Linked DNA regions of Homo sapiens: region 2 is linked to region 1. The links come from fine-mapping of genetic effects on gene expression. A gene starts in region 1. The other region holds a variant in brackets. All regions are shown on one strand. Distances are between the middles of the regions.

Region 1 (5,374 bases):
AAATCCCTGACCCCACGTTTTCTATATGCTTCTCTGTAGAAGTCTTGTGTGCCTGTGTGTGTGTTAAGGAAAACGGGATAGTCTCGGCAAACCTGGATTGCAATCCAGTTCCACCATTTCCTTCGTGAAATTCAAGCAATTTAACCCAAGTCTCAGTTTTCTAACTTGTAAAATGGAGTGTTAAAGCCATAATCTTCAAAACCCTCAGAGAATGAATGTTAAAGCATTTGGCACCTAGTCCTTTGTGTAGTTTCCTTTGGGCGTCTCAAACATTGGGATCAGTGGTTCCCAACCCTGGCTACTAGAATCACCTGCGTGTGCTTAAAAAACATGATGCCAGGCCAGGCACAGTGGCTCACACCCATTATCCCAGCACTTTGGGAGGCTGAGGCGGGAGGATTGCTTGAGCCCAGGAATTCGAGACCAGCCTGAGCAACATAAGACCTAATCTCCACAAAAAAATTAAAAAAAAAAATTAACCGGTCATGGTGGCACACACCTGTAGTCCCAGCTACTCGGGAGACTGCGGTGGGAGGACTGCTTGAGGCAGGGAAGGTGAGGCTTTAGTGAGCCAAGATAATACCAGTGCACTCTCCAGCCTGGGCGACAGAGCAAGACCCTGTCTCCAAAAAACAAAAACAAACTCACACACACCTGTGCTTGCCTGGGCTACACCCCAGATCAATTAATCAGTATCTCAGAGATGCGGAGGGGTGGCTGATCAGTCACTAGTGTTTAAAAAGCTCTTTGGGGGATTCGGATGTGGGACCAGGGCTTACTGCCACCTAGCTAAGGTATTTAACCAGCTTTATCTAAGAGTTGCCAGGGATGTGAGGCAAAGCATCACCTCAGGGGATTCCTACAGCAAAGAAGTTTAAGAAACACTGTATTGAGGCTTGTATAAAACCTTCCCAAACTGAGGGCATTTCTACAACTCAGAAAAGTCTGCTGTTACATTTCAACTAAACTAAGTCACATAATTGCAGCATTTTACATCCAAAATTTGCTTATAAGACAGCTACCGCCAATTGCAACTTCCATCAAATGACATTCTCTCCCTGTGTTTAATACACAAACTCTTGGTCTATTTCTCTCAATGTTCTAGTGAGAAAGATGTTTATCATCAACCCCACTTTTTTGGGGAGAAAACTAGGAATCACACCTATAAGAGCCCTCTGACTCCCAACTCCTTTGCCCCTTTCATTACACAGTCCAAATCAAGAAATCATTAGTCTAATCCCTTGCAGGGCTTGTTAAAACCGATAGATGGGCTCCACCCCAAGAATGTCTGATTCAGTAGTCTCTGACAGGGCTTGAAATTTCAGCCATTTTGAATAAGTTACCAGGTGTTGCTGCTGGTGGGACCAGAGTTTGAGAACCACTGGTTTATGCTGCCTTCTTCCCATCCGCTGGTCCTTATTTTGCACAAAATGGAGCGGACTAGTCAACGTCAGCTACAGGATAACTGACTTTTCTTCAGCAGCGTCACTGGGACTGATTTTCCCTTAAGACTGCACTTTCCAGGGACGTGACAAACAAGCAAGCAAGTAGAAAGAAGATCTGGGCCAATCTTTGGTCATCTCTACCCAGGGACAATGAGCTACTCAGGGAACAGACCCTTGAGGATCCCAAGCAGACAAACCCCACAGCTGAGAGACAGATCTTGAAACATCCTCCGCTCCTTAGGCGTGGTCACCTCTGGCCTCAATGGAAGTTACAGATAGGTACCCAGGCGCCAGCTGAGGCACTGAACTCCGTGGCGCAGGTATCCTAACCTCAGGCCCCTGGCATCTCTCCCCAGGATTCCAAGCACTGAACGCACATCAGCCTGCTGGGCTCTCTCGATTTCTTTCCCTCACTGGGCCGTGTGTTCAGACGCACCTGGGAGCCCCTTCCCCACTTCCTGGAAACTCAGCGACTCCAGCCACAACCTCCAAAACGCCAAACGCTCCGCCCCAAGGAATCCTACCTCACCTTCTCATAACCTGCCCATTCATTCTCCTTCATAATCCTCCAAATCCTCATTTTCCACCCCCAAATGTCCGTTTTCAATTGATATCTCTTTGTTCTCCTCGCAATCACCAACTCCCATCTCCAACCAGCACTCAGGACTCACTTGGAGACACCCCTTCCTCACGCACACACGTATCTACTCCGCAAGCCCAAATGTGCTTCCCGGATTCCTAACCGCCAGGGAGCCTCCCTACCACCACCCCCGCCCCTAATTCTCCACCCAAAGCCCTTCCCCCACCCCGGGCCTTTCCCCTAACCAATCCCCCAAATGCCTCTCCACTATCGTGACTGCCCCTCATCACACCCCCTCCTCTCGGTCCCTTCTTATACTCTGCTGCTGCCCAGCTCCCTCGGCCGCCCTCAACCCCTAGTCCATGGGCACCGCCCTCCCTACCATGAAAAGTCGGAGGACGCAGGAGTCTCCAAACCCGGACTGAGAGAGGCAGGAAACACCCAGCTCACGCCAGCCGGGGGCGGAGGCGGGGCCGGAGCGATAACTTCCGCTGTCCGCACCCCACTTCCGCCCCGCAGAGGGCAACGTCTTAAGCCGTCCGTTGTGCGCCTAGGGGCCAGTTTTCTTTCCAGCCTCCCCGGCCGGAGTGGGTTCCAGCTTTTCTCGGCTGGGGAGGGCATTTATCCCACCTCCGCTATTTCAGCTGCCAGAGGGGAGGCAAGGTGTGGGGAAGTTTTCCTTCCCGGGCGAAGAAGCTCTGCGGAACTGTCATTTTCCGGAACTGGATGCTTGCTTCCTGGCGGGGTTCTGAAAGCGAACACCGCGGGGCAAGATGGCGGTAGTGCGTCGGCTGCTGCCCCGGGTCTGGCAGAACTCGGGTGTTTTGGGCTGAGACAGTGGCAGCTGCGGCCCCGACCCCAAGTGCGGGGACCTCCGGCGAATAAAGGTCGGCCTGCGGGTAGGCCGGTAGGGCCTGCGGTCCGGCCTGCGGGAGAACTGGGTCGTCAGTCCTCCGAGTGGTGGGGCTGGGGACTTTGAGGGAGTTGGCTCTAGGGCACAGTCCCTGCCTGGCCAGGTCGGAGGAACAAGTGCTGGGATCTGGCGTGTGTGCTCCAGGGGCTCTTTCCGCGGCCCTTTCCACCTCTTTTCACTTTGGGGACGGTAGGCCTTTATAAACGGACTAATGCTGGGTGATTTGTTCCTGTGGTTGTTGATGCCGAGGAAAGACTCTGGGCCCCAGGACTCACCTAAACTGGAGTTCGAATACTGTTCGCTCGCTGTGTGACCTTGGGTGAGTTCCCTCACCTCTCTGAGCCTCAGTTTCCTTCTGTGTAAATGGAGTAATTAGCAGGTTTCACAGAGGGTGTGAATACGTTTTAGTACCGTGCCTGACACCTAGTTCTGAATAAAGAAAAACTTGATCGTAATTTAACTCCAGCTTAGCCCCCACAGGCAATCTTGCACTCTCAACTTCTCTTTGCTTGGCCATTCTGTGAACGGGGGAGCCCTGGATCTTGTTTGTTTTACTTAGTGATAAATAACTGTTTTGGATATACATGGATTCAGATTCAAAAGCATCCACCTTAGATAGGCTGTAGCTTTCAATAAATAGTAGCTGTTAATATGAATAGTCTCTTTAAGTCGTGTTTCCTATTCTTTAAATAAAAATTAGATTATTGAGGCTGGCCACGGTGGCTCACGCCTGTAATCCTAGCACTTTGGGAGGCCGAGGCGGGCGGATCACCTGAGGTCAGAAGTTCAAGACCAGCGTGGCCAACATGGTGAAACCGCATCTCTACTAAAAATACAAAAATTAGCCGGGCGTGGTGGCGGGCGCCTTTAATCCCAGCGACTTGGGAGGCTGAAGCAGGAGAATCACTTGAACCTGGGAGGCGGAGGTTGCAGTGAGCAGAGTTCGCGCCGCTGCACTCCAGCCTGGGCAACAAAGTGAGACTCCGTCTCAAAAAAACAAAGATTATCGAGAACTGATAGAGCTGTTGAAAAGACAAGTTGGTTAAATAATCTGTGCAGTGTCTGATACACCGTCTGCCCAGAACAAGTGGTGGTGGTCATTAAACCTGGTGGCCCAGCTTTTCCTACTGCACAGGGACAATCCTCTTGGCTTAGTCAGCAGTTGGTATTTATGATGCTTCAGCTTTGGAAATATAGAGGTAAGACAAGAGTCTGAATCCTGCCTCTTAGTTATTACAGCCTTGACTCTGCCACATACTAATGGTCTAGACTGGAGTAGATGAGATCATGAATGATCTTCTCATAGGACTCCTCTCCTTATTAGATGAGATCACTTATAAAGGACTTGACACATAATGGGCACTCATTTACTTTTTTAAATGATCTTGGTTATCACCAACCTCTTATTTTCTAATCTTTCTACCTATATGATTCTTGTTTCCCTAACTAGATTGCAAGCTTCTTAAGGACAATACAATAAAGCTCACTTACATGCTACATGCTTTTAGATATCCTATATTAATATTTTCCCATTTAATCCTAATCACAATGTTGTGATGACTAAATTGAGGTACAAGAAGGATAAATGTTGCATTTAATCCTTTCAGCAACCCTAGGACATAGACACTATTATTACCCTCGATTTACACATAAGGAAACTGAGGCCTAGAGAGGATAAGTAACTTGGCCAAATGTCGGATAGAAGGAGTACTAAAAAGAACCAAGGCCCGCTTTCTCTGATGCAAGACTTTTTCTGCTGCGCACAGCCTTTTCTTTGGTTCTCCATGGCATTTAGCAAAATAAGTACTTAATAAACACTTGATTGTGTGTTTTATTAATTGACGAACTATAGTATACACTGTGCAGGTGGAGAAGGTATATAGGAAAGGATGAGAAAAACTGTAAAGTGTAGGCTATTATATGATATGAACAGAAATCAACCAATAACATTGCTGAAGGGATAATAATCTCAAGGAAGGGGATAAGAGTAATTTCTTATTCTGGGAGGGCCCCTGGGAGAAGTGAAAGTTTTAAGATCGTCTTACAGTGCTTAGGTACAGTTTGCATGCAACTTTGTTTTTCTTTTGGGAAGAGGCTCCCTCTTCCCCTTCTAATTCCATGGACCCTCTGCCATTGAGGCACTGTCTGCATGTCATGGAGGGAGCATATCATTGTGCTTGTGGCTTGGGCCCTGCTCTTTTGCAGTCCTGAGGAGCTTGAATCTGTTACTCACTCTAAACAACAGGGCCAGGAGTTCATAGCCCAAGGGACAGGACTGGTGAATCTTAGTGCATTTAAGATAGGAAAAAAGTTAATGGGTGAGAAATGTCAGACTGCCAGCATTATTTCCTACCCAGAGAACCTTAGTAACTGTCCAGGTGGGAGCCTCTGCTGAAGAGTTTTTTTTTTTTTTTAATCCTTGTGTCTATAAAAATA
Region 2 (5,374 bases), 28 kb before region 1:
AGGAAGTCCTGATAGAGGATGACGTCTGACCTCTACCATCGCCATTTTTGCTCCAACTGAGGAAACTACAGGGGAAGTGGGGATTGGATCCAGTTAGCTACCTCTTCAAGGTACCAGGCCCGCAGCACTAACAGATCACATCTGAAGAAACTGAGGGGCGTTAGGCCAAAGCCTAATCCCAGCTCCTCAGCTGCCCCATGGCACCTTATTTAAAATGTCACCTTCTGGAAGCAGACCCCAGGTCACCCGAAGGCGCAATTCTAAACACCCTCGACAGGATCTATGTTCAGTGCGCAGTCCAACGTGTCATTAGAGGGTGGGCAAGATTCTCTACCTCTGTCAAGCTGCCCTGAGACATGATGAAATACTGTGTACAGCAAGTTCTCAAATAACATTTCGTTATATGTTGATAAGACATCTGATTCCTGGGCAGGGCCACTGTCTGGGTGGAGTCTGTATGTTCTCCCCATGTCTCTGGGTTTCTTCTGGGTGCTCTGGTTTCCTCCCACGTCCCCAAGGTGTGTGTGTCAGGTGCACTGGCGTGTCTATGCGGTCCCAGTCTGAGTGAGTGTGGGTGCGTGAGCCCCGTGAGAGGAGGACATCCTGTCCAGGGTGGGTCCCGCCTTCTGCCCTGAGCTGCTGGGATTGGGCTCTGGCCATCTGCAACCCTGAACGTGCAGGTTGGAGAACGAATGAATACAAATTTTATTGTAAAATAAAAATGTATATAAAGCATATGAGCACACAAATGGACAATAAATGCCACAGCGCAAAAGCGTGTAGCGAGCCTGCCACGCTTGTGACTGGGGAGGGGCTCCGTATAATCTCACCTTTGCAAGCGTTTATTTACTGATGTATGCGGCCACCACTGTGACCACCATCACTTACCGATTCACCAAAACTTAGGTAATATGGTCTTATTTTTGATTTAATTAAATATACGTGTAGCTCATGTATTTCACAGTTTAATATGAGAAGTGCTTTGGTCTTTATTTAGAAATTGGGTGATGTTTTTGTGCCCAGCAACATGCTGTAGGAATTTAACTCTTGTTTACATCCATTAGCCTCATGGTTTTGCTTCAAGTCTCAGCTTCCAAGAACCTATCGATGACTTACTGTGCATGGTCTGAGACTAAGTAAAGGAAATTTCCTAAAGCTGTGAAATTTGAATTTTGCTTTAAATAAATGGAACTCACATGTGTCAAGGGATTGGGTTTGGTGAACTGAAGCCCTCTGCCCCATAATAGCAAATCAGTGGTAACACCAGCTGATTCACTTTTTCATGAGCCAGGCAGCCTTTGACCCCAAGACTTCCTTTTGGTGTTTGAATTCAAACAAACACTACAGAAACATGACTGTCTTTTCCCTTCCACCTGGAGCGACTTTAAGGGGCTGAGGCAGAACGTGGGGGCCCTGCCTTTGTTGTAAACCGATTTTAGGGGCCTGGTTATGCCGGGCATGCCTGAAAAGAGCCAGAAAACAGAAGCATTTTATGACTTTTATTTTACATGTCGCCAACGTTTGTACAACATACAGTGGCTACATCTAAAACTTTGAGCATTTTTTTATGGCGCAAAGAGACAGAAAGGTTAATGACACACTTAACTGTTACAGTGACTTTGGGTAGGGCCCTAAAGACAGCACACGCTCCAGAGGGCGGGCTGAGTGTTGTTCACACTTGGGTCCTGAATCGCTGTTGTAAGGTACAGAGACACACTTTAACTGGGGAATGGGGTCCCCACACAGTGATCGCCCCACGGGAGGGTGACAGAATATGCCAGGAATTGTCTTGGACATGGGCCCCAGTCACCACAATCAGATGGCTTATTTGAAACAAACAAACAAAAAAAACCCTTGATTACGACACACCAAAGCTGTTCCAATTTGTAAAAAACTGTAGTTATTACATTGCAATGAAATCTCTTTACCAAATCTTGGGCCAGTGTTTTACCTGGATAGTGCTTACATTATAAATATTGGTTTTTGCCCTTAGTGCTAACATAAGAAAAATCAGTTCCTTGTATACTCAATAACAGAGCTTGGACCAGCCAATGCTGTCTATTCACTCATGGCTATAATGCAGCCGACAGAATTGTTCACCATGGAATGTTTTATAAACCTGTTCATATTCCAGAGAGACAAAGACTCAAAACTACAAGTGCAAAGTTGGGTAGAGAGAGCTGCCAGAAACACTAGCTCATTAGGCATAGAGGCCACAGCAAATCAAATTGTTCCACAAACTCATTCTTCACACAAACATTTAAAACACTATGCAGCCAGGTGTGGTGACTCACACCTGTAATCCCAGCACTTTGGGAGGCCAAGGTGGTCGGATCACAGGGTCAGGAGTTCAAGACCAGCCTGGCCAACATGGTGAAACCCCATCTCTACTAAAAATACAAAATTAGCTGGGCATGGGCTGATGGGTACCTGCAATCCCAGCTACTCGGGAGGCTGAGGCAGCAGAATCGCTTGAACCCAGGAGGCACAAGTTGTGGTAAGTGGAGATGGTGCCACTACACTCCAGCCTGGCCAATAGAGCAAGACTC[C/T]GCCTCAAAAAAAAATTTATACAATGGCTTTTCCATTTTCCTGGCCAACATTCACTTCGACTTTCTAAAAAAGCTCAACCCAAAAGAAAGACAGGGTTGGTGTTTAACACTTAAACAGTATAAAATATTTACGAAACATTTTGTAAGCCCTCTTTCCTTAGCACTTAATAAAATCCAAATGGCCTAATATAAAAGTTTCTCACACGACAGTTTAAAAAGCATCTGCCCAATACACGATTTTGACATTCAGTCATGATTGTTTTAAAGTTTTATTGTAGACTTTGCTGTTGGATACAAAATGAAGGCATACAACTGTCACAGGCAGGGCAGTAAGTACAAAGTCTAAGCTGTAAAAACCGTTTGAAAATATAAACTCGTTTTTGGAATACATGTGTCAAAGGCTGCCCATGTTAATACCTTTGGTATAAAACGGTAACGATTCCCTTGACAAACCCATCCATCACCTGACGCACATTCACATCTCCTGGTAACTACTCTACCTAGTCTAGTCTCAACCACCCCTGTCAGTCACGACTCACTCCTGTTCCTTTGCAGGTGCAGAGGAGCCTGGGAGGTAGGTCACTGAGAACACCCGTCCTACATAGGCGCTGCGCCCAGCCGGGCTCCAGCAGGGGCCGCCACCTGTGCCCCACAAGCACACGTCCCCACCCACAGTCACACATATCCCTTAAACAAACATGAACACAGACACAAACCAGACCCAAAGTTATCTATCTACCCGCACATCCTCAACCTGTTCACTGCTGGCCACTCTACACTGTGTAAAAATCAGAGGCAAAGACAAGGGGGTCTGTGTTTATAGCAGGGAAGCTCCCTGGGGCTGGTGGTGTGAGGGTGTCCCTGCCTGGATGCCAGGCTGGGAGGACAAAGGGTATGGGCCACACTGAATTTCTAAGCAAAATGACTTAGAAAGTTAGCCCAGCTTCATGGGGAAGGAGGCTGAAGAGGAGCGGGATCCCAGGGAGGGGTAGTTTATGAGCTATGCCTGTCACAGGGTCAGATGGCCTTCCTGGAGTGGAGTCGGGTCAATCAGGAGAACAACTGGACGGGGCTGGAGTTGGGGAAAGAACCAGAAACAGAGCTGGACACTTACTGCCATGGAAAGTTCTGCTCCTACGCAGACATATGGGGTCCCAGTGAGCACCAGGCCAAAGACCAGCCCAAGGTGGCAAAAGGCTTGATCCCTAAACAAAGCCTTGCACCCAAAGTTGCACTGGTCTCAACGATTTAGACGCTCATTCAGCCATATTTCCACTGCCACAAGCTGCAATTATCAACAAGCTCTAGGCCCAAAGCCACATGGCAGAAAGCACGTCTAGCAAAGCAGTGGGGATTGTGCCCGGGCCAAACACACAGGAACCAGGAGTGGACCTGCTGGGGCTGGAGGATTATGAAATAGGAAGCAGGGAGCTCAGATACCTCTGGTGGCCTCCAACTGCAGGACAACTCTCAGAATTGTCAAACTGAACCCTTAAGGGAGTGTCACCCAAAAAGCCCACATAGGAAGTCGACACCCACAAAAATAAATATTGCAAACAAAAGTTCTCACATACACTTCACACTCATTCATACTTTTCCTCTGAGAACCGAGAAAGCCTGGCTCCAAAGAGTCTCAGATTCTCATGAAAAGTAGAGATCTTAGACACAGCTTGTTCAACGACAGGGGTCATACGCCTGGGTCAAGACAATCAATTTGCCTTGTCAAGCAATACCAAAATAATCATCTGGCTTGTTACAAAAGTATCTCCAGGCTCCAAGGGAAGCAGAAGGGGCCCGGCAGCCTGCACAGGATCTGGGTGTAGCACGGCAGGGAGTGGGGGCGGTGAGAGGAGGGCGGCTCGGTCTCTTGCCTGCTCACTGGTGGAGGTGGGCCCGGTCATCAGGGCGCTTGATGTGGATCCTCCGCACGCGCTCGATCCGCTCCCGCTCCTCGTCCTCGTCCAGGTGGTGGGAGCGCCCCGCCGCCCCGCCTGTGGCCTCCAGGAGCGCATTGTCAGGTCCCCGGCCATCCTGGGCCTCATACAGCAAAATGTTCAGGGTCTCCTCATAAATCCGGGCTTCGGGAAACTCCACCTGTGTTCCCACAGTATACAGGGCAGGTAAGTTATGGCCCACCCCCTCTGCCAACACCTGGACTTTAAGCAGGGCCGCCAGGCTAAATCAGGCCCCTGGGATTCTGCTGAAGGCCACCAGTATTATTTTTAAATAAACTGATATTTTCAATGGCAACACTTACATGTGGTGCTAAATGCACAGAAAATCAAGGGGATGCAGAGAAACAGGTCTCCCTGCCCCTAGTTTCCCTTCTTAAAGGTACAGTTTCTCATCATTTTACCCTCTCAAAGATTCTGTGCATGTAAATATGTGTAATACACATATTTATTCACACACTTCAAAAAACACACAAGGTGGCCCACCACACAGAGTTGTACATGTCTTCCTCTTGTGCCTAACTTAACCTAGAGATCATTCTGTATCAAGGAATTATAAATACGACAATGCAATTAACCATACTTGGATGGCCATTTAGGTCAGTGCTAATATGCTTCTCCTAACAGAGCTGCAACCTTGCACAGAAGTCCTTCCACACCTTAAAGCAGTCTCTAAAGCAGTTTTTTGTACAGGGTCCAGCTGGGGACTCCCACGAAATGGGCATGAGCCCTTCTGCTGTTTGGCAAATCATTGTGTTTGCTCATTGCCCTTCAGGGTTAAGGTGTGATGAACAGGAAGAGGGCCACATAAGCAGGTCCCACACATTTGATCAGACTAGACTCCACTTTCAGGGTGGAATTCGGAGGTTCTGG

The links. PIP is the estimated chance that this variant, and not a neighbour inherited with it, causes the effect.
Region 2: its variant is fine-mapped to the expression of KCTD10 in whole blood (TOPMed, PIP above 0.99).

What each region holds. Positions count from the first base shown.
Region 1 is chr12:109,474,853-109,480,226 of GRCh38, forward strand. KCTD10 (potassium channel tetramerization domain containing 10) reads right to left here and starts at 2,448. Exons shown (of 7, transcript NM_031954.5): 1 at 2,408-2,448. The coding sequence starts at 2,410. UBE3B (ubiquitin protein ligase E3B) reads left to right here and starts at 2,782. Exons shown (of 28, transcript NM_130466.4): 1 at 2,782-3,257. RefSeq lists enhancers at 1,361-2,096, 2,605-2,694.
Region 2 is chr12:109,447,171-109,452,544 of GRCh38, forward strand. MYO1H (myosin IH) reads left to right here. Exons shown (of 32, transcript NM_001101421.4): 32 at 1-1,209. The coding sequence ends at 12. It overlaps KCTD10 (potassium channel tetramerization domain containing 10), which reads right to left. Exons shown (of 7, transcript NM_031954.5): 7 at 1,485-4,643. The coding sequence ends at 4,425. Among named protein-coding and RNA genes, the nearest start is that of KCTD10, 27 kb to the right of the region's middle. The variant C/T (reference allele first, on the strand shown) is at 2,550.